Regions from separate parts of the Homo sapiens genome. Here region 1 is linked to region 2. The links come from fine-mapping of genetic effects on gene expression. A gene starts in region 2. The other region holds a variant in brackets. All regions are shown on one strand. Distances are between the middles of the regions.

What was found. PIP is the estimated chance that this variant, and not a neighbour inherited with it, causes the effect.
Region 1: its variant is the best candidate, but not a certain one, in a credible set for the expression of BHMT in thyroid (GTEx, PIP 0.72).

The regions. Positions count from the first base shown.
Region 1 is chr5:79,063,871-79,075,766 of GRCh38, reverse strand. It overlaps DMGDH (dimethylglycine dehydrogenase), which reads left to right and starts at 6,093. Exons shown (of 16, transcript NM_013391.3): 1 at 6,093-6,247. The coding sequence starts at 6,147. BHMT2 (betaine--homocysteine S-methyltransferase 2) reads right to left here and starts at 6,000. Exons shown (of 8, transcript NM_017614.5): 1 at 5,952-6,000. The coding sequence starts at 5,984. The variant G/T (reference allele first, on the strand shown) is at 6,903.
Region 2 is chr5:79,107,021-79,118,916 of GRCh38, reverse strand. It overlaps BHMT (betaine--homocysteine S-methyltransferase), which reads right to left and starts at 7,108. Exons shown (of 8, transcript NM_001713.3): 1 at 6,999-7,108; 2 at 3,018-3,150. The coding sequence starts at 7,031. LOC124901012 (a long non-coding RNA gene) reads left to right here. Exons shown (of 2, transcript XR_007058837.1): 2 at 3,619-4,110. RefSeq lists an enhancer at 5,938-6,782.

The DNA of each region.
Region 1 (11,896 bases), 43 kb after region 2:
GTCTAAAGCACATCTCCCCAGGTGCCTGCAGGGTCATCCCCTCACTGCTTTCTGGTCTTTGGTCAAGTGTCACCTTTTCAGAGATGCCTTCCCTGAGCAATGCAAACCACCCACTCCTCCCAACTCCCCACAGCAATCCTGATCCCTCTTTTGTAGGCTGCATCAGTGGAAGATGCAACCTTTTATTGATAATAGGCCAGTTCATTTCAGGCCTGCCCATAGCTGGACACAAAGCAATGAATGGATCAGGGAGAAAAGCCTCAGATGCCTCTTTTAACTAGTCTTATCTGTTCTATGAAATCAACATAAACCCCCTCAGTTCCTGAATCCAAGGGAGACATCAAGCAGGGTACATAGGCAGCTTACTGGCCTACGTGTTGGGTGTAGGGTAAAACTAAGCTGTGTAAAAAAGAGGCCCCCACAACAGTGGCTTTAAATAAAAGTAGTTTCTTTTTCCTCTGTAAGAGGAAAGCCACTGTTTGTGGGGGACTCTTTTTTACAGAGTGTGCACCAAATTGCACAGTCCTTTTATCTTATTGCTTTGCCATTCCCTACGGCAGGGGTCAGCACATGACAGCCCACAGACCAAATCTGGCACATCACCTGTTTTTGTAAAAACAGTCTTAGGTAAAACCCTGCCCATTGATTTACATATTGTCTAATGGCCACTTTTCCACTACAGTAGCAGAGTTGAGTAGTTACCACTGAGACTGTATGGCCCCCAAGGCTAAAAATAATTACTATCTGACCCTTTACAGAAAGCGTTTGCCAACCCAGCCCTAGGGTACTGTCCTCCTCAGCATGGGGGAAACTGGATCAGAGTCACGTTCATACTCTGTCTCAAACGATGAGGAAACAGTGTGGCAAAGCTCATCCTAAAGTTTTTAGCTCAGACCTAGAAGTGACTCATCTCATTGACATTTACATTTCCTGCGTGAGAGTTTAGCCACATGGCTCTACCTTGCTGCAAGGGAAGCCAGGAAGTATCATCAGTGAATGTCCATGTGTCCAGCTCCAACGCTAATCCTTCGGAAGGAGGGGGAACAGATTTTGGAGAGAAACTGCTTCTGTTCTAGTGTCTGGCATCTGCTATTTCTCCTTTGCTTACTCCCCACACAAAGTGACCCACCCAGGTGTCAGGAGCGAGCTTCCTTGGATACCAAGGAACAAAGAGATCCCAAACACATTTTGGCCATATTGCTTGATATACTATTTTCTTCAATCTTTTCCCAGGAGGCTGGAAGGCCATAAAGGCAATAAAGAATAAGAGGGAAGCTAATTTGATCTTGGTTACAGGAGTCTTTGTCCTTAGCTGGGTCAATCCTGGATCTAATAAAAGCAACCAGAAATTAAAGCAGACGTGAGGATCTTCCCACAGAGCCTCCCAGGACAGTCCTGTTAACAGTATGGAACCAAACATGAGAGGTCAAATATGGCTTGAATAATCTCTTAATCTCCATCGAATGGCATGACTAGAGAGGGGGCTTATTCTAGCTTTCTCCCCATGTTCAGTTTAGCTGCAGAAGTACAAACCACTCTGACTAAGCAGAAAGGAGTTTAATATTGAGAAATGGGTACATAAAAAATTTACACTGGGCTTCCAGAAATGACCCCTAGAAAAACATGACTGAATTGGCCGGCTGGGGCTGCACCCTCTGCCACAACTAAGAGAAGCCACTATTGAACTGTTGGCTTCAGGACACAGCTGTCATATAGGGAGAAGGAGGCTGCTCCAGCGACCTCAGCTGCCCCTCACGTGACCCTGGAATGCTGCACTATGGCCACATTTGCTATGCTTCCACCTTCCCAGACTCATACTGGTGCATCTGATTGGGGATGCTAGTTCTTATCCAGATCCTAGCTGCAAAGGAGTCTGGCAAAGTGGTTAGTTTTCTTTCCTCTGCAGTGCAAGAAGGTCCATCAGAAGGGGTTTAACTAGAGGTAAATACCAGGTCACTCTACCTACAGCATCTTTTTACTGTGCACTTGGAGGGCAGGCAAATGGAGCCCAGCTGTGTGAACTATGTTAAACATAAACACTATTTTGGCAGAGAGAGCTCTCAACTCTGGTTATTTTTCCATATTTTATATCTAAAGCTGAATTTTAGCTGAATGCAGAAGAAATGTTAATATTTACTGATTCTCATCTCTTTCTTTCTCCTCCCTGCATCAAATGCAATTCACTCTTTTCAATTTGTACTTTTGAAATATAAAAAAGGCCTTAAATTTTGGACGTTTATTGAGACCTTCCACATGTCAGGTATAGTTGTGGGCAAGTGGGATAAACATCAGAATAAGACAAGGTCTCTGCCCTCCACAAGCTCAAAGTCTGGCTACTTTGGGGAAGGCCAATAAATCAACAAATAATCACAGCAGAATGTGACCAATAAATGCTACACAGGAATACAGAAGAGAAAGTCAGAGGTACAGTTACTGTGTACAAACTGTTTTCCTGAAAATCCCATACACTTCATTAGGTTCACCATGTTAAGAATCAAATTTAGGCCAGGCGCGGTGGCTCACGCCTGTAATCCCAGCACTTTGGGAGGCTGAGGCAGGCAGATCACTTGAGGTCAGGAGTTTGAGACTAGCTTGGCCAACATGGTGAAACTCCATCTCTACTAAAAATACAAAAATTAACTGGGCATGGTGGCAGGTGCCTGTAATCCCAGCTACTTGTGAGGTGGAGGCAGGAGAATAGCTTGAACCTGGGAGTTGGAAGTTACAGTGAGTTGAGATTGTGCCACTGCATTCCAGCCTGGGCAACAGAGTGAGACTCTGTCTCAAAAAAAAAAAAAAAAGAATCAAATTTACTCAAACAATTGTCGAGGGAAAACATTGGCACAGAATTCAGATGTTGTAGGTTAGCTTCTCACCTCCCACATCCAACCTATCACAGGGTTATGCCAAGTGTATTACACATTTCTCAAATGCCCCACCATCCTCACTGCATTTGATTATTGAAATGGTCTCCAGTTCTCTCCAGCCCTACTCTGAACTGTCTTCCATTGCTACCAGAGCACAGGCTCACTGACCCAGTCTCACCTGTGATTATACCCCTTTTGTGTCCTGCTTAACTTCACAGATCCTTCATTCATGCATCCCCCTGTACAGCAGTATCTGGTTACTTACTTGTCACCTCAGTTTGACTGTAAGAGGCTTGGGGGCAGGTGACATATCTTATTGGTCTATATCCCTACCACCACATATAACAACTAAAATGAGTAGACACTTAAGAAACTATGCCAAGAATTAGCAAATAAACAGGACTGTTTTGAAAATGTCAGATGTATTGCATATGCTAGAATTTTTGTCCTGAAGAAGAAAAAATGTTACTCTTTAGCAGACAATTAGGTAGGTTTTAAGAAAATTGTAGTATATATTTTGACTGTGTCTTTATGAAACCAAGTAAAGGGAGGACATTTTCATTTGTTATCTGGATGTTTGTCCACCATTTTAAATTTGCCATTTTTCTTTTCTTTTCTTTCTTTTTTTTTTTGAGACAGAGTTTCACTCTTGTCGCCCAGGCTGGAGTGCAGTAGCGCGATCTCAGCTCACTGCAACCTCCACCTCCAGGGTTCAAGCAATTCTCCTGCCTCAGCCTCGCAAGTAGCTGGGATTATAGGTGCATGCCACCATGCCCAGCTAATTTTGTATTTTTTAGTAGAGACAGGGTTTCACCATGTTGTCCAGTGTGGTCTCGAACTCCTGACCTTAGATGATCTGCCTGCCTCGGCCTCCCAAAGTGCTAGGATTACAGGTGTGAGCCACTGTGCCCGGCCAATTTGCCATTTTTCTACATAGCCATTAGCAAAATAACTAAGTTATCAAGATTTGAGATCAGAGCATCTTTTAGCCCTTCCTTCACTGCTATTCTAACTACCTCAATTAATTACTATACCAGTATGATCCCTTCTTTAGTTTTTTTTTTTTTTTTTTTTTTTACTTTTAAGTTCAGGGGTACATGTGCAGGATGTGCAGGTTTGTTACACAGGTAAATGTGCATCATTGGAGGTTTGCTATATGGGTTATTTCCTCACCCAGGTATTAAGCCTAGTATCCATTAGTTATTTTTCCTGATCCTCTCCCTCCTTCCACCCTCCACCCTTCGATAGGCCCCAGTGTGTGTTGTTCCTCACCATTATACTAGTACGATCTAAAGTCAACTGTAAAATTATAAAGACAGGAACATGTAAAATAAGGAACCCTGTAAATTAATTTTGCAGTACATTTATATTTTCATTCCCTCCTCCCCATCAGTTTGGCAGTGAACCTGCCTTGCATCTGACAGCGAGCTCTAGGGTGCATTTATGCCCCCTTTTTGCAGATATCACTACGTAAGACCTCTGGGTTTAAGATCTGGCTTCAAGACATCTCTATTCATACTCAGTGGGGATCAACTTCACTGTGTAGTAGGAGGTGATCAGAAAAACCCAGTCTGTCTAAAATAACTTCCCCTTTTCCTAGATTTGCCAGCAGAACTGCTCTTTTGGATTTAAGACCTAATTGGAGGTCTTGTCTGTGGCAATTAAATGAATTCTTAAAATGTACCTGCTAGCTGAGGAGAGAGGTGAGATTAGTTCCTTCCCATTAACACCTTAACTCCCAGGTACACATTCACATGGATTAGTGTGTGATAATCTTGGTGTTGTAACAGTAGAGGCCCCAAAGACACTGAACAAAAACAGGGCATTTTAAAAACGTTTAAAAATATGAACTGTAAAGATGAACATAGCATTAGAGAAAGTTGAGAGAAAAAAGCACAATGTTCTTTGATTATTTTTATTAACTGTATTCTTTCAATGCTCACATTTTGCTTTTATAACCTGAAAAAATATCCTAAAACATGCTTTTTAAACCAATATTCCACATCTTGTGTAACTATTACCATTATTGTGTCCTTCCTTACAGTGTGTATATAAATATTTGTATATGGTTGGGATCAGTTTGTGATATATTTCCTTTTGCAACTTAACATTGCCAAGGCACTTAGCTGGTTCTCATACTAAGTTATTTAACTGTCTAATAACTTAAGTAGATGAACCTTAATTTATTTAGAATCCCGTATTGCAGAGTATCTTGGTCGTTTCTAACTTTTTAGTATAAATAGCTCGGTGGTGCACATTTCCACGCATAAACTGCCCCTCCTCCCTTCCTCCCATTCTGAATGACAGGGCTGGAGCGGGTGGGGGTCTCTGAAGGGTCCTGGGGATGTCTTTCGTCCAAGCTCATGCCCTTCCTAATTTTGCTTAGTCACTCCTTCATCCCACCCCCACACATACTCGACGTAGAAATGGCTGGGCATAAAGCCAACATCTGGTGACCAGACCAGGAAAGGGGCCAGGAGCTGGGGACCACCGGGTGAGAGGAGGTTGAGGGGTGCTAGCGAATCCCACCTACCCTCCACCCTGCACCGCAGCTCTGGGGGCGTCCTTGCCCAGGACTAGTTTCAGACCAGCCGGCGACTCGCAAGGCCAGGCTGCTTGGCCAGGCTGCTGACTTTTCCAAAACGCGAGGGGACAGTCCGAAGAGTTCCCGGACGGATTAGCCCAAAGAGCTGCGGGCGAGGGTCGGTTGAGGGAAGAAAATGTGTGCGCGACATGCGTCCGAAAGCTAGACTTCTGATCCTCGCTCCCCGCGGGGCTGGACCCGTGACCCTGAGCTAGTCGCCTGACTCGCCGAGCCTCAGTTTCCTCACCTGTGAAATGGGGATAATTGTGAAGATGAGGAGATAACTTGAGCACAGCACTCTGTGCAGCGCCAGGCACCGAGTAAGGGCTCCATAAACGCTAACCAACCCGTGACAGGGGAAAATTGAGGCTCAGGGCCATCCCGTCCAAGTGTTTTGCCGAGGCCCCAGGGCTTGGCTAGGGATGGACGCCGGGTGTGAACGGAGTCGCTCGCAGCCCAGCGGCCAGGAGCTCCGCGAGGATCGAGGGGACGAAACTCACCTTCTTGGCCCCCGGGCGTCCAGCAGGTGCCATGGTGCCGCGGCTCTGTGGGCGCCGGGTTCCCGGGCGCGCGGCCGTCTAGGAGCCCGCCCCCAGCCCGGGGGGAGGATCCGACCCCCGCCCCGCCGGCCCCGCGGCCTCAGGCTGCCCGCTGGCCTCGGAGCAGGCGCCTGCGCCCTCGGCCTCGGCCTAGTCATGCTCCGTCCCGGCGCGCAGCTGCTGCGGGGCCTCCTGCTGCGGAGCTGCCCGCTGCAGGGCTCCCCCGGGCGCCCGCGCTCTGTCTGCGGCCGGGAAGGGTGAGTGGGGCCCCGTCCTGCTCAGAGGCGACGGGGCGGCTGCGGGGGTGGGAGCCAGAGGCTGAGGCAGGCTCAGGGGTTAGGAGCGCTCTGGCCTCCAAGAAATAGGCCTTGATATATCTTCTCGAATTATCTTTTAATTATAAAGTGAAACAGTATCCAAAGGTTCCCCGTGTAAAGTCTCTCCTGCCCCAATCCCCTTGGCCAGTGAACAATTGTTAATAGTGTCTTCTGAATCTAACCAGAGACAGTCTACGCATAGGCAAACACAGGTCAGTATAGGTTTTCCTTTGGCTTTTTGACATCTTGCTTTTTACAATTATCAATATATCTTGGAGATTGTTCCATATCAGCACACACTGACTTGCCTTGTTCCTTTTAATGGCTGCATAGTTTTCCATCCTGTCAATATTCTACACTATCGTTAGTCTATTCATTAACATTTAAATGGTTTTTGGTTGTTTATTACTGCAAATAACGTGCATGTGAAAATTCTTAGGCATCTATCTTTGAGTACATATGGGAGTCGGTAGCAACAGTTTTTAAAGGTGAACTTGTTAGGGAAAAGGTTACGTGCATCTGAAAGATTGAAAGACAGCAACACATTCTCCAAGTGGGTGGCAAGAGTTTGCATGCGGCACACCAGTGTGTGTCT[G/T]TTTCCCACATCTTCCCTGGTTCCCAGAATAGCCCATTTTGTTATCTTTGCTAAATCTGATAGGTAAAAATGGCATGTCCTTGTTTTGATTGGTCTGTATTTAAATATGAGCAATGCTGAACATCTTTCGACTTCTTATATTTGTAGATTATTCCTGGTTGCCAGGAAAGGCTTGTTTATCAGCATCACTCAACATTATTATGAGTTGATTCGAATTTTATTTTATGTCCTATGACCTGAAATTCTGGAATCAGAAGACCTGCTTTTGAGTTCCATCTATCCATTCAACAAATATTTACTGGGTGTTGTGATGTGCTAGGTTTGTCTCCAGTACTGGGAATGCAGTAGCCACCAACTCACAGTTCCTGCGCCATCTGTTACACAGAATGTGACCTTACACTTCTGAGGTTCAGTTTCCTCATCTATAAAATGAGGATACTAATTTTGCTCTATATAACTCACAGGATTGCTGTGAATATTAAATAAGAGAATGCATGTGAAAGTGCTTTGTAAATTGTAAAGCAATGCAAAAATATTTATAATAATGATGTTTTTAATCCAGTGCAAAATAAAATGGAAATTTAACAAACAAACTGATTAGATAAATAAGATACAAATTTCAAGACTATCCAAAAAATTCATATTTTGGCTGAGTGTGGTGGCTCATGCCTGTAATCTCAGCACTTTGGGAAGCTGAGGTGGGCAGATTACTTGAGGCCAGGAGTTTGAGACCAGCCTGATCAACATGGTGAAACTCTGTCTCTAATAAAAATGCAAAAATTAACTGGGTGTCATGGTGTGCACCTGTAGTCCAAGCTGCTTGGGAGGCTGAGGCGGGAGAATCGCTTGAACCTGGGAGGCGGAGACTGCAGTGAGAACCGAGATTGCACCACTGCACTCCAGCCTGGGCGACAGGGATTCCATCTCACAAACAAAAACAAAAACACCCAAAAGTTGAGTTATTTCAATTGCATATTCTTTATATACCCAATTTCAAACTATCAAAAAATGTTTTATTTTGGAAAGCAGTTGAACAAGCATACAGTTTGTGCTTATCATTTCTAATACAGAAGATAACTGACCTGGGTTTTTTGCATGGCTCCTAAGTTTTATTTCAAATACTCTTATAAACATCCTCGACTACATTCAGAAGGATTTTAAGATAGTTATCCACATAATCAAAAACACTATACCTAGTCTGAAACCTATTATGGCATGCTGGGCCGAGGAAATACTATATATTTGATAATGCTTTATCATATGTTGCCAAACAGAACCTTCACAGCTCCGTTTTGCAAATGAGAAAACTTTGAGACCCTTGTGTAAATTTCTCTAAAATAGCTGTTCAGTTGGATTGGGGACTCAAACCCAGGTTTCCTGATCTTAAGTTCTCTTTTGTTGTTGTTGTTTCAACTGACCACTGTCCTGAAAGAAATAATTCTTTCTTTTGAACACACAAAAAAGAACCTTTAAGATTATTATTTTTGTCACCACTATAATGGTTTCAACTAAAGTACAAGATATGCCCAGTCTGTTTAAAAATGGATTTCCGTCCAAAGTAGTTGGGTCATATGTACATTATTTTTTTCTCACACAGCATACAAAGAGACATTAATAGTCATCTAAAAACCGGTGAAACAAAACTGCTGAAACATGTTGTGGCACCAGGAAATAAGGACATGCTCTAAGAATTATGTAGCCATGTCAAAAGCATACAGGAGTCAACTGAAAGAACCTCCTGCTGGCCAAATCTAGGACAATTTGGTATTCAAATAAATGATGACTAGTAATGGATTAGAAACCACTGAAAACAATAAATATCCATAAATTCATGTTAATATAAACAACCAACAAACAAGGGTGAAAGAAAATTACTTCCTTACAGTAGAATGCCAACTATTAAATATAATAGGAATGATGGGGTTAGGAAATAATCAATAGATGTTAAAGCCACTCAGTAAAAGTTTGATAAGGACCAGGATATTTACATGGTCTCAAAGTAACACTTCACATTATTACTTATACAAAGGAAAAAATGGTAGCTTTACTAGACAAATCAGACAGACACCACCTTAAGCAAGTCATCAGACAGAAACAACACCAATATCAGGACAAACCAACATCATACGCTTCTTAATCATATACACTGGGAAGGAGTCAACATCAGTTTCATGATGTTTTTGCCAAAAATGCATAACATAAGTCTCATCATGAGGAAACACCAGACAAACTCACAGTAAGAACTGTTCTATAAAATAACTGGCTAGTACTGGCCGGGCGTGGTGGCTCACACCTGTAATCACAGCACTTTGGGAGGCTGAGGCAGGCGGATCACGAGGTCAGGAGATCAAGACCATCCCGGTTAGCATGGAGAAACCCCGTCTCTACTAAAAATACAAAAAAAAAAAAAAATTAGCCGGGCGTGGTGGTGGGCGCCTGCAGTCCCAGCTACTTGGGAGGCTGAGGCAGGAGAATGGCATGAACCTGGGAGGTGGAGCTTGCAGTGAGCCGAGATCGTGCCACTGCACTCCAGCCTGGGCAACAGAGCAAGACTCCATCTAAAAAAAAAATAAAATAGAATAACTGGCTAGTACTCTTCGAAAATGTGAAGGTCATAAAACACAAAGGAAGTATTAGGAACTGTTCCAAATTAAAGGGGATTAAAGAGACAGAATCCTGGATTTGATCTCTGACTGGAAAAAAGTAGCTATAAATTGATTGGAATAATTGATTAAATTTAAATATGGACTATAGATAATAGTATATCAATGTTAAATTTCTTGACTTTGAAAACTGTACTGTTGTTATGTAAGAGAATGTCCTTTTTCTTACCAAACTAGCAAAAGAATATTTAGAAGTAACTGGGTATGATACCTACAATTTACTCTAAAATGTGTATACACATAGAATATACATATTATAATATACATATATGTATAGTCATGTGCCTTATAATGATGTTTCGGTCAATGATGGACCACATATACAATGGTGGTCCCGTAAGATTATAATGGAGCTGAAAAATTCCTATCACCCAGTGATGTCATAGCTGTCATAATGTCATATGCAACACATTGCTCACGTGTTTGTAGTGATGCTGGTTAAACAAACCTACTGTGCTGCCGGTCACATAAAGCTATAGCACATGCAATTACATACAGTACATAATGCTTGACAATGATAATAAATCACTGTGCTACTGGTTTATGTATTTACTACACTATACTTTAAATCATCATTTTAGAGTATACTCCTACTTATAAAATAAAAAGTTAACAGTAAAATTGGCTCAGACAGGTCCTTCAGGAGGTATTCCTGAAGAAGGCATTGTTATCATAAGACATGACAGCTCTGGCCGGGCATGGTGGCTCATGCCTGTAATCCCAGCACTCTGGGAGGCCAAGGCAGGTAGATCACTTGAGGTCAGGAGTTTAAGACCAGCCTGGCCAACATGGTGAAACCCCGTCTCCACTAAAAATACAAAAATTAGCTGGGCGTGGTGGTACGTGTCTGTAATCCCAGCTACTCGGGAGGCTAAGGCACAAGAATCGCTTCAACCTTGGGGGTGGAATTTGCAAAGATGGCGCCACTGCACTCCAGCCTGGGTGACAGAGTGAGACGCTGTCTCAAAAAAAAAAAAAAAAAGGAAAAGAAAAGAAAAAGAGATGACAGCTGTGTATGTGTTATTGCCCCTGAAGACCTTCCAGTGGGACAAGATTTGGAGGTGTGAAGACAGTGATATTGATGATCCTGACCCTGTGTATGCCTAGGCTAATGTGTGTGTTTGTGTCTTAGTTTTTAATAAAAAAGTTTGAGGCCAGGCACAGTGGCTCATGCCTGTAATCCCAGCACTCTGGGAGGCCAAGGCTGGAGGATCACTTGAGGTCAGGAGTTCAAGACCAGCCTGGCCAACATGGTGAAACCTCATCTCTACCAAAAACACAAAAATTAGCTGGGTGTGGTGGTGCACACCTGTAATCCCAGCTACATGGGAGGCTGAGGCAGGAGAATTGCTTGAACCCAGTAGGTGGAGGTTGCAGTGAGCCAAGATCAAGCCACTGTACTCTAGGCTGGGCAAAAGAGTAATACTCTGTCTTGGAAAAAAAAAAGTTTGAAAAGTTAAAAAAATATATATATTTTGTAATAGAAAAAAGGTTCCAGAATAAGGATATAAAGAAATAAAATATTTCTATATAGCTGTAGAATGTGTTTGCATTTAAACTGTTATTACAAAAATCAAAAAAATTTAAAAGTTTATAAAATAATGAAGTTACAGTAAGCTGTTAATTTATTATTGAAAAAAGAAAAATACATTTAAAAATAAACTTAGAGTAGCCTAAATGTACAGTGTTGATAAAGTCTACAGTAGTGTACAGTAATGTCCTAGGCCTTCACATTCACTCACCTCTCACTCAGACTCATCTAGAGCAACTTCCAGTCCTACAAGCTTGATTCATGGTAAAGTACCCTAGACAGCTGTACAATTTTAAATCTTTTTTTTTTTTTCCTTTTGAGACAGGGCCTCACTCTGTCTGCTAGGTCTGAGTGGAGTGGCGCACTCATGGTTCACTGCAGCTTCAACCTCCTAGGCTCAAGCAGTCCTCTTACCTCAGCCTCCCAAGTAGCTGGGACTATAGGCATGTGCCACCAAGCCTGGATAATTTTTGTATTTTTTATAGAGACGGGGCTTCGTCATGTTGCCCAGGGTTGTCTTGAACTCCTGGGCTCAAGCAATCTTCCCATCTCGGCCTTCCAAAGTGCTGGGATTACAGGTGTGCATCACCAAACCTGACCTGTTCTCTAGATTCTTTGAAAAAAAGAAGCTACTTGTTCATTTCTTTGGCTATAGTAGCTACAATGGACCAGAATCATTATATGGAATGGGGCTCAAACACCCCTCCCCCAACCAGGTTGCCTAAATCACAGTTTAGATGCTCCAAATTATTAAATCAGTATCATGCAAATCTCAGTCAGTGGGTGTTAAGTACTAGAGA
Region 2 (11,896 bases):
CTGTCCAGAAATAACTGACTACAGCACTGCATGGTTGGGCTATGCAGGAAGAAGGGATCATTTCTACCCAGGACATGGGGCAAGGGGGCGAAGGAGGTCCAAAGATGAGGAATCATTTGAGCTGCACTTGGAAGAATTCAATGCTACTGCCAGGCAGAGAAGGTGGGGAAGGGAATTCCATCCAGAGAGAATAGCCTGAGCAAAGATAATAAAGCGGGAACAGGCATGGCATTTGGGGGAATGACAAGTACCTTGAGTGGCTGGAGTTGATGAATCAGGGAAATATATAGTTTTTAAGCAACTGGATGATGTAATTAATACAGTGTTTTCAAAAGATAATTCTGGTAGCATGGTGAAATAAGAATTGGAGCAAGATTTCCAAGCACAGTTCCATGGATGAATACCAAATGGCAAAGTTTGTTTGTTTGTTTGTTTGTTTGTTTGTTTTTTGAGATGGAGTCTCATTCTGTCACCCAGGCTGGAGTGTAGTGGCGTGATCTTGGCTCACTGCAACCTCTGCTTCCTGGGTTCAAGCAATTCTCCTGCCTCAGCCTTCCAAGTAGCTGGGACTACAGGCACCTGCCACCACGCCTGGTAATTTTTTTGTATTTTTAGTAGAGGCAGGGTTTCGCCATGTTGGCCAGGATGGTCTTGAACTACTGACCTCAAGTGATCCGCCCACCTCAGCCTCCCAAAGTGCTAGGATTACAGGCGTGAGGCCTCCAAATGGCAAAGTTTTATCAGCTGGAGGAAATATGGTGGGATTTTTTCCCCATATAGCTAAAAGTATTCAGTTTAAGAAATTATCATTTGTTTTAAAATAGCTGTCCTAAGCTGTGGTTGCCCATTAGATCCCCTGCAAATTAAAATTACGGATTGGAATGTCAAATCCACAGATATTCTGACTTAAATGGTTTGGAGTGAGGCATAGGCATCTTTTTTTTTAAGTTTCCCCAACCCATCTTTGTTTTCAGCCTTGTCAAAAACTGCCATTGTAAGATAGTGGAAAAAAACTCCTTTTATAAAATGACTGTGAAACTTGGATTTCACAAAAACTTGGTTGTTTTCGTTAGGAGAATTAACTGGGCAAAGTAAGAAATCAGCATGCTATTAATATATCAGCTCCTGAAAATTATTTTGAAATTTCAGAGGTTTATGAAATCCAAAGGTCCAGGAGCAACTATATGACAGGCTAGGAAATTACTAGGACACTGAAGTTCTTAGCTCTCAGCGCTAACGCTGGAGATGAGTCTATACTCATCTCTTGTCTCCCAGACGACTAGTAGAGTAGAGTAACTGGAACATAGAAACCTTGGTTTTTGTTTTTAAAGAGATGAATACACAAGTGAAAAAAGCTTTTAAATTTTAGAAAATGCATTTGTAAGCTTGTAGCCAAAGATTTTCCATGATTTTTTAAATCATAGAAAGTTCTCAGTGGGACCTCAAAAGCATCCCTAAATTAGCGGGCTTCAAACTTGTTTTAATTAATAACAGAACCAATGAAAAATATAGGGAGTTCCATATATCAATCAGATAAACCCAGAGCTGCTGTGGCTGGAGAGGGCTGAAAGGCCTATATACTAGGTTTCTGGACACTAGGAATAAATGGTTTATAACTACGAAGTCCACTCACATGGTCCTTGGGTGGAGTTCCAGAGGTTTCATGAAAAAAACCCTGGAAATGTGTGCAAATTGTTATGTATAAATACATTTTACAGTGCAGAAGGTCTATAAAATTTTATCAGATTTTTCCACAGGGCAGTGATCCCAAACAGTTGAAGACAACTCCTCACTCTTGATTATTCATCATGCTTCTAAAACTGCAGTGATTCTCTAAGTATGATCCATCTTAGAGTCACCTGGGGGCAATTATCAGAAAGGCAGATTCCTCAAACTCTTCCAGACCCCGATAACCTGAATTCATTGCTGAATTAAAGCTGCTTCCACTGGGTGCAAGAACCATAACTTTGGGCATAAACTTTAGCAAGAGAATGAGGCTGGTAATTTGAGTATCCTTTCACCTACTTTTTCCTGACCACAAGGTTCCTACTCTAACCCATAATACAATAGGGCTAGTCCCTTTTACTCAATGACGTCGCTTATACTAATTGATTACCTTCATTTTATGGCCTTAACTCCTCATTATATTACTTATTTTAAAATCATAGAAGCTAAATGTACATTGATACATGATTATATATGTACATGGCATAGTTGGAGATTAGCCTTATAGATTTAGCTTGAGAAATGCAAGTTTTTAAAATTCCACAGCAAACTCTAAAAGGTCAAATAAAATTCTGAAGTATTTCTTCAGTTGGGTAAGTTTGCAGCAAAACCATTTGGGGGCAAAATATGACCTGAACCAACATGAAGGTATTGATAAACATGTTTCAATTAGTAAGGGTAGTCATGTATTTTGATGCAAAAATGTATTAATGTGTTTCAATGGGAGCTGCTTCAGGGCCCATTGGGAGTGTTACATAATATGCTACATTTGTACTGTATTAACTTTCTAACATCCCCAGATTCCTGGATTCCAAGATATGTTTGACCCCAAAATGTGGTTTGGACAGGGGATTGTGGGCCTGTAGCATAACCACTCCTTTCTTTTTGCCCAGAACATGAAAAAGTCAGGCCCAGGCATGAGATATATAAAAATGTTGCAGGTGAAGTCCAGCTTGCAGGAAGACTCTTCAGGGGTTTCCATCAATTCTAGCTACCACTCAGTCTAAATTACAAAAGCGCTGCAGATACACAAAATCATTTGCATAAAATAGCTCAAGCGATCCTCCTGCCTCAGCCTCCCAAGTAGCTGGGACTACAGGAGTGCACCACCATGTCCAGCTAATTTTTAAAAAACTTCTGAGAGACTAGGTCTCCCTATGTGCCCAGGCTGGTCTTGAACTCCTGGGCTCAAGTGGTCTTCCCACCTCAGCCTCCTGAGTTGCTGGGATTACAGGCATGAGCCTCCACACCCGGCTCCTTTATGAGAACTTACAATAGAGCTCTGCACCAACCTGCTTCTGGGTGCTCCACAGCAGCTTCAGGAGTCCAGGGTCCTGCCTTTACGTAGCCCCTCTTCTCCAGTGCAAAGACAAACCCTCCATCTCCAATCACAATCTCTCCAGCATTTAAACGTTCTAGGATGCCCTAAAATTACAGATGAGGGAGGAAAAGGAGTTACTTGAGTGTTTAAGATAATTTTCTATTTTTATTACTTTTGCTAACATATTCTTGGAGATGTGTGGTTATTTTAGAATTTTCAGAGAAAAATGTATATTTTATATATACATTTATGGCTATCTATAAGACAAACAACCAGAATGCTCATAAAATAAACATTTGTGTATTCCTTTGTATGTGCTGTGGGTGGGGGGGTCTTTCTTAACACGTTAAAGAGTATTTGAAGAACACCGTGGGAGGTGTGTTTGAAGAACTGTCTGCTGAGGGATTAAATGAAAAGATTTTGTTGTAAAGCCTCAAATCTGCACTTAAGCACAGATTCTTAAAATGGTAAATACTAGTCTTCTTACTCTATCAACAAACTAAAGAGAGGGTTAAAAAATTGTTAAAGAAGTTGAAATGGCATAGAATGCTATTTTTTTTTTTTTTTCTTAGAGACAGCATCTCACTATGTGCCCAGAGGAACTTGAACTCCTGGGCTCAGAAGATCCTCCAGTCTCACCCTCCCCAGCAGCCAAAACTACAGGCTCGTGCCACAGTGCCCAGCAATGCTATTAAGCCATTTTATTTTAAGACTGAAAAGGTGGCCAAATCACTCAAAGACTTCTATCTTTGGTGTTAAAATTCAGTTTCCACAACAGTAGCTATGCTATACAGTCCAGGTTATGAGTGTGCACATGCTGTACTCTATGATGAGAACAAGGAAGAGACAACTAAAGTATTTGTTGAATGATTTTTCAGCCCAATCTCCATACTTATTCCATTTACAATACTGTGCAGTAATCACCCTGGTGTTGTTCTATGGATAACTTTGGAATTAAGTATTTTGAAAGGGTTTTGTGAATTACAAAGTAATTCTCTAGTTTAATAGATTTTTTGTAATTTCAAAGAATCATAGACTTTAAAAATAAATAGTACTCAATTCAATTGAGATCTCTCTCTCATTTCACAAATGAGAAATTAAGACCCAGAGTCCCTGAGTAATTTATACATGGTTTTCCAGATGGGGAGCATAGGGCTTCCTGACTCTTTTATGCTTAAATAACATCTATATTTGATTTCAAATGGGATTGGGGGTGGTGGGACAGCCCTGAAAAAAACTGTATAGTGTAAAGGAATAACTTGGGACGTATTTACCCAGTGTGTTCCACTTACTACCAATAACAGTGGATAAAACAAAAGCTGACATAATAACAAGATTCCAGAAATCTGTGAGAGGCAGTCACAGGATTTTGCATCCCAATTCCTTGCCACCTTCTTAGAACCTCCCTCATTTTCATTCTCTTCCCCTCCACTGCCCCTTCCCATGCCATTTGGACAGCTGGTGCTCAGAGAGAGGAAACAATTGACATTTCACCAGACAGAAGCAAAGTGGTAGGATTATGCTGTGTGTTCCCTAATATACCTTTCAGATCAAAACATTTTCAAGCCATAGTGTTGAAGCCTTGTTATCTTATGGGAGCCCATAAGATAACAAAGCACAACAAAAATATAAATGGCTCACACGTCATTTTGAAATCCAAATATTTGTCATGATTGCAATGTATCTAAATGTCACATCTGAAAACTGCAACTTTGATTATGACCTAATTAACAACAACAATAATATATATATGTATACATATATATAAATATATATATATATATACTACTGCCAGCACAGTTACATAAAAAACATAACAAGGGTCACTTAAATGAGATATGACTTGCTACTAACTTTTATTTGGATAAAATAATTCATGACATTTGGGCAGTTAGCAGCTCCCATTGAACGTGTGTGTTTTCAAATTTTAGTACCACAGCATTTTAATGTGCAGCATAGCTAAGGATCTGATGCTGGGTGGCAGGGTGGGTAGTGGCGATTCAATTACTATGTGGCTCATGCACTTGTTGAGTGGTTACCTCTGGAAATATGATCTCTTACATTCTATTGCATTTTAAAATTATCTAGACTTCAGGATTTTCTGTTCCCAAGCTAAACAGACTTTTTAAAAGGTGGAATGTGCTATGAAAAAAATATACCATTTTGTGAAAAAGTATTACAAAACAGTATATGTAATATCAGCCCATTTTTGTCTAAGAAGTGCATATTTGCCTCAACAACAAACTAGCAGAATATACACCAGAATTTAACAGGCACTGTTCTTTGTGCTTTCCCTCATTGTTTATAATGAACATGTGCAAACTTTGTAACATTTATTTTAATTTTAAACTCAAATGTGTAGACATGTTATTGTCCATATATTGTTTTAACACTGACATATGCACGGAAACAAGTTACTAGGAAACTGTTTTTTCCATCTTACATTCATCTGTTGCTTAGATAATTCTACAAAGATAATTCTTTAAAATGTTAGATTTTCTGAGTTTGAGTTTGGGGAATAAGTTAGACTTACGTGGCTATGAGAATGGGGACAAACAAAAAATATCTATATCTATAGGAATCATCCTTCCCAGTCTCTGTGGACTATTCATTTAGTACATTTAGGGACTGGCGAAATTCTCACCCTCCTTTGACTGGTGATAGTCCATAGTCCTTTGCCATCTCAACACCCACTCATGCCATCAACATGCATCCACGATGCTGCATTTAGAATCTGTAACCGAATTGACCTTCTTCCTTGTGTAGAGGTCTTTTTGATTTGGGAGGCCATCCCTTTAGAAACTGGGCACACCTCAGCTGGTTCTCCAGCAGGGCAGGCACTGGGATGAGAGCTGGACCTTTCTCACTGTCCTTACAGCCCAGAGGATACAGTTGGCCTGGCCCCATCTGCCTCCCTACCATTTTCCGGGGGCCTCTGTCGTGCCAGGCCTGGGACTGGGCATTTGACCAAAAGGTCAAGTTTATTCTCTCCTCCCTCCATCCTTCTCTCTCTCTTCCCACCTGTCCAGTCTCATTCCACGGCAGTCAGTCCATCTATCCATCCGTTCCCCAAATTAGAGGAAGGCCTACCGTCTGGACTGAAAATACCCCTCCCAACAAGCCACTGGGATAGCCAAGAGATGGACTTGTTCATCTGGAGCTGGAATTGGGTTTTACAATTTCATCAACAGCCCTTCCTCAGTATCTTACAGCCACTCTGCCCATTTTTTCTTAAACCATGTTTTCGAGGCTGACATTTCGGATGACATTTTTCTGTCATCACGGACATCAAATTGCCTGTGAAAATCTGCAATCACCCAACCAGCGCCTGGGCCTTGGGTGCAGCGAGAACCCGGCGGGGAGGCGGCCCCGACACCCGCGGTGCAGATCCAGGCGGGAAATGTCGGAGCCAGCGCCGTGCACTCCTCCCTGTTCTGGGCGCGCCGGGTGCAGAGGGCGCTCGCGGCGGCCTCGGACACAGATGCGGAGGGGCTCCGTGGGGACGGGATATCGCGCCTGCGGGGCTAGGAGCAGTATCTCTAGGGAGTTTTCTGGTCTTGGGGTGCCAGATTCAGAAGATATTGGAAGGCTCGGAGTTCTGGGGACACCCAGCCGTCAGGGAGGGCTCAGAGGGTGCCTTTGGGTCTGAGAGGCAAGGATCACATAGATCTGGGGCGCACTCTGGTCCAAGCTGGGCTGGGGCTGGAGGGGACAGAGGCGCTCTGGGGGCGCGCTCTGAACGTGGGGCAGGAGTGGGGAGGCTCAGAGGCGCCTTGGGGTCCTGCTGGAGAAGTTCTGGAAGCACATTCTGGTCTGAGGCTGAGGGAGGGGAGGGAGTAGGAGGATGATGGGTACCAGGCAGGGTCCGAGGGCCCCTCTGCGCTCCCAGAGGCTGGGATACAGAGCAGGTGGGAGGGGAAGGAGAGCGCCCTCGGGTCCCCTGGAGACTCACCTTCTTGGCCTTTTTGCCCCCAACGGGTGGCATCTTCGTGGTGTCCAGACAGGTGGTCGACACGGATGCGGACCGACTAGGCGAGCCTTCCCGCTGCGCAGCCCCGAGCTGCTCCGAGTCCGCAGCCTGCCTCTTTATACCCGCAGTTGGGCGTGGGGAGGGCCTCCCAGCCACCGCGCGGGCCAACACGGACCTTGGGCGGGAACACGCCCACCAGCCCTTCATCAGGCCCGCCTCCTGTTGGGAACCTGGCCTGCCAAGGAGGTAATCCAGATTGTTCACCCAAATGGGTGGAACCACCGAAAAGTAAGATAAGAAAAAGCGAGGTTGCCACTCGCTCAGATTTCAAACCTGCCTAGCGTCCCTTTTGCCTCTTGCACTTTTGCCCCGACCCTGACCGTCCTCTCGCTCACCTGGGATCATGCACCATGGCCCACTTAGGCTGCCAGAGAGGCCTCTGAGAAGTCCATTCGATGCTCAGATATTTGTCAAAGGCCAAGGCGTCAAGATTATGGAATCAGGGGATGAAGTCCTGGAAGATCTTCAGCCTGGAGTGTGATCTCCTGTGTGATATACATCCAGTATAACGGGACACAAATGCGGCTTTAGTAGAGGAGTCCAATACTAACCCTGAATTGGCGGGTATGTTCAAAATGACCTTCTACCCCTATACCCAAACATGCCTTGCAGTTTCTAATAACACAGTAGTTTCTAATAAGAATATGTTTGTAATATTTAACAAGGACAGACTTTTAACATTTATAAATGGAAGCAGAAATGTACTTTGAAGACTTCAAAATTCAGCATGAAAACGATATAAAAACATAGACATTAGAAGAACTGGAGGGAATAGAGATGTTAACAGTAGTTACCTATTGATGGCGGAATTAAGGCTTGTTTTATTTTATTCTTCATGTTTCACTGTATTTTCCAAAATATTTTTATAATGAGAATACATTGATTTTAAAATAATAAAAACATTACTTTAAAAAATGTACAGCATGGCCTGCACGGTGGCTCATGCCAGTAATCCTAGCACTTTGGGAGGGTGAGGCGGGTGGATCACCTGAAGTCAGGAGTTCGAGACCAGCCTGGCCAACATGGTGAAACCCCCGTCTCTGCTAAAAATACAAAAATTAGCCGGGCATGGTGGCAGGCGCCTGTAATCCCAGCTACTCGGGAGGCTGAGGCAGGAGAATCGCTTGAACCCTGGGGGCAGAGGTTGCAGTGAGCCGAGATTGTGCCATTGCACTCCAGCCTGGGCAAAAAGAGTGAAACTCTGTCTCAAAAGAAAAAAAAATGTACAGCATGACAGTAAATAGCCTACAGAACAATGAAATATCTGAAACACAGTTCAGAAAATTTTACCCAAATAAAAGCATGTAAAAAAATTCTGTATGTGGACAAACAACCTCCATTTCAACACATGCAGAGAAGAAAGTTACTGCAACACCTGATGAATTAATACAAATTTAACGGCTAAAGTGACATGTGTTTGAAATACAACTGAGAAAGTAAAAATGTCCTTTTGCTTCTAAGTATGTCAAGTTTAAAATGGAAAAAGAAATGAAAAGGTGAAAGGATATACTGTTATTCAAGTGATCTATTATTTCATTGGCTCCTCCACCCCCAACTGTGATCTGGGGTCAGCAAGAATGAGGCATGAGGTAAAGTCATTCTTCACAGTACCTAGATTAAAAAAAAAAAACACCTTGAAGGCATTGGAGTATCCGAATAGGTAACAGTTTAGTTAGTTAATGCGTTAACTAGTTAAGGTATTCACCTGGTGAGCACTGGTGAGATGAACAGGTCTAGAGTGAGCCCCGCGGTGGCTGCAGGGAGCAGCCGCAGTCGTGGGTATCTGGCACTAGGAGGCGGTATAAGCACTCTAACACTCAATAAAGGCTGAAAGCCGACGTTCCCAATTTCAGTTTCCTCAAAATGTGGCAAAACTTGGGAGAAATTTTAAACTAGTAGCATTAAATTTAGAAGTGAATTATGAATTTTTAATAGGTAATATAGACACATGGCAAAAATTTTACTTTTTTAATCTTTATTTCTCCAAGAACAAACATGGCAAAAAAAATTTAGAAGCCTTTCCCCAGCTGCTGTTGCAGATCAAGTCCCCTCCCTGGAGGTAACCACTATTGCCTGTTAACCGTTCTTCCAGAGGAATTTTATGCATACCTAAGTGTATAGATGTATATAAAAGGATTTGTACTCGAACGTAGGGAATTTTCGTTTTTTAAAAAAATTATCGACTCCCAGCTTTTCCAGAATGATTTATAGGTGCTGTCAAAATATTTTTGTTTTTTCTGGGCCTCTCAATTTGTTGTCCTAACTATCCCATGCCCCCACCCCCAATTAGGTCCATTTAAAAAATTATTCACTTATTTCCATAATAGATGATAATATCCACCATGTATGTAAAAGGCACTAAGCCTTTTACTTACACAACATTATTTACCCCACACAACTCTGTGAGGTGGGTGTCCCCTCTTTGTTCTCAAGAACCACGAAGTTAGGGAGTTAGATGGATCATCAGCATGCTCCCTGAAGTTTCTTTGCCCCATTCCCAGAGAACTAAGTCTGCTTGGATACCACTTAGGAAGTGAGGTTTTTTGCTTGTTTGTTTGTTTTTTTGAGATAGAGTCTCACTCTGTCGCCCAGGCTGGAGTGCAGTGGTGCAATCTCAGCTCACTGCAACCTCTGCCTTCTGGGTTCAAGTGATTCTCCTGCCTCAGCATCCCGAGTAGCTGGGATTACAGGCTGGCGCCACCACACCCGGCTAACTTGTATTTTTTGGTAGAGACGGGGTTTCACCATGTTGGAGAGGCTGGTCTTGAACTCCTGACCCCAGGTGATCCATCCGCCTCGGCCTTCCAAAGTGCTGGGATTACAGGCGTGAGCCACTGCACCTGGCAGGAAGTGAGTTCTGCAATAAACTGTCCTTGGGAGGCTGCCTATGTTCTCTGATCTCTACTGGAGTCAACCAGATGAGGGAGGTCATAAGACTGAAGTCCATGGCTGTGTACAAAGATGTTGGGGGTTAAAAATAAATCCCAAAGAAGAAGAGGAGACTTAGAGCTGGCGATCCACCCCCTTCATTTTACAACCTCAAAAGATACTCGGTTATTGTTCTGTCTCTGACCAGTGCTTTGTTCTATTTGAAATCCTATTTATTCACTCAATAAACATTTAGGTACCATTAATACAATGTTTTAAACCCTATGCTTGGTGCTGGAAGTAAAGGATATCATCTCCTTTTTTTTTTTTTTCAAGGAAGAGATAGAAACCATCTCATATAAGTGCTAAAATGTTCCTTTTACCAATATGTAGATGGAAAAATGTCAGGACTTTTCATTTCCCACTCAACTGGGATCTCTTTTAAAATGAAACTGACTTTTCACAGGCCTTTTTAGACTAAATATGTTTCATTTAGCCTTAAACCATTGAAGATACTTTAACACTGTGTTTAATGATGTTTTATATTTTAGTATGATGTTTAATGATGTTTTAACACTGTGTTTAATGGTGGTTTTACATGTTAACACTGTACAGAACAGTGTTTGCAAACTGCTGATGTGGAAATGGAGCCAGCTTCTGCGTTTCCTTTGGCAAGGCCAGTGTTTTTAAAAAATTGAATGTGAATTCCTTTATGTGGCGCTTCCACCCTTCCCATTTGCTGGTCTGTACCACACCCAGCTGCCCTGCACTCTTCTGGTTCACATATTTACCTTACCTTAAAGGCATTTGGGCTTTCAACTTCTGCTATAAATAGAAGGTATATTTGGGGTTACGGAATACATGTTCCCCCAAGTAGCCCCCAAACCGAAGATTTCATTTGCCTTACATTTTCCTACTGCCACTAACCCCCGTTATTTTTTCTTGCCAGGATGACGATACTAAAAGGTTGATGAGGTGGATTTTCCTTCTAAAACTCTCTTCTGCAGGTGCACAGGTTTTCCTCAGTTTACCTGTCCTGTCCAGCACCCTGTCTATTGCAGTGGCCACATACATGCATTTGTCCCAACACGTTCATGCATAGCCAACCACTGCACAATTACTCCTCTTTAAAGGGTCTTGGTTTCTTCATATGGAAAATTAGAAGTTGAAGCTGGGTGACTTTTCAGATTTGTCTTTGCATTTGGTTTGGCATAAACTTAGAGCACAAAACAGCCTCTTCCCAGGGTGCTTTCATTGCCTTTCCCTTGCCATCAGCGAGCCCTTCCTGAGCCCGGCTCTGACCGTGCCTGTGGCTCCTGCTGGTGCCTCCAACTGCTGCCCATGCTTGAGTTTTTGCCTTTAATTTCCTAGTTCTTAGAGAAACAGCTGAGCTTTTTGTTTTTGCTTGTTATCTCAGAGCTTCCTTCCACCACAGGTGAAAATGCTTCCCTCAGGGCTTGCAGATTAGCCAGCATATCCAGCGTCTCCAGCATCTCCTGGCTTTCCACAGAGGAGTCCTCCAGCTGATATTCTTGTTCATTCTGGACACCTCCAGTTTCCCAGAACTATCCTCTCAGCATGGTAATTGCATCCTGAGTTCCCTTTCTAGCTCTGAAATTTCCTCTCTTCTGCTTTTCCTCAAATGCTTTCTAACAGGATGATTAGCCTGTCACATGCCCTTTTGTGGCTTTTTTTTTTAAGCAGATAACTGTAACTTTATGAGCACTTCCTATGTGGAGTTAGCTGTGCTAAGTGCTTTGTAAGCATTAGTAATCCTTACAATAGCCCTGTGAGGTAGGGATTTGACCAGCCCGATTTTACTGATGACAGTGCTGAGGCCCATGGAGGCCAGATGAGAACTTTCCCAAGATCATGTCAATAGTAAGCACAGAGCTGAGAGAGGACGTCAGCTGGGCCGAATGAAGCCAGAGATCACACTCTTTAGAGTTACT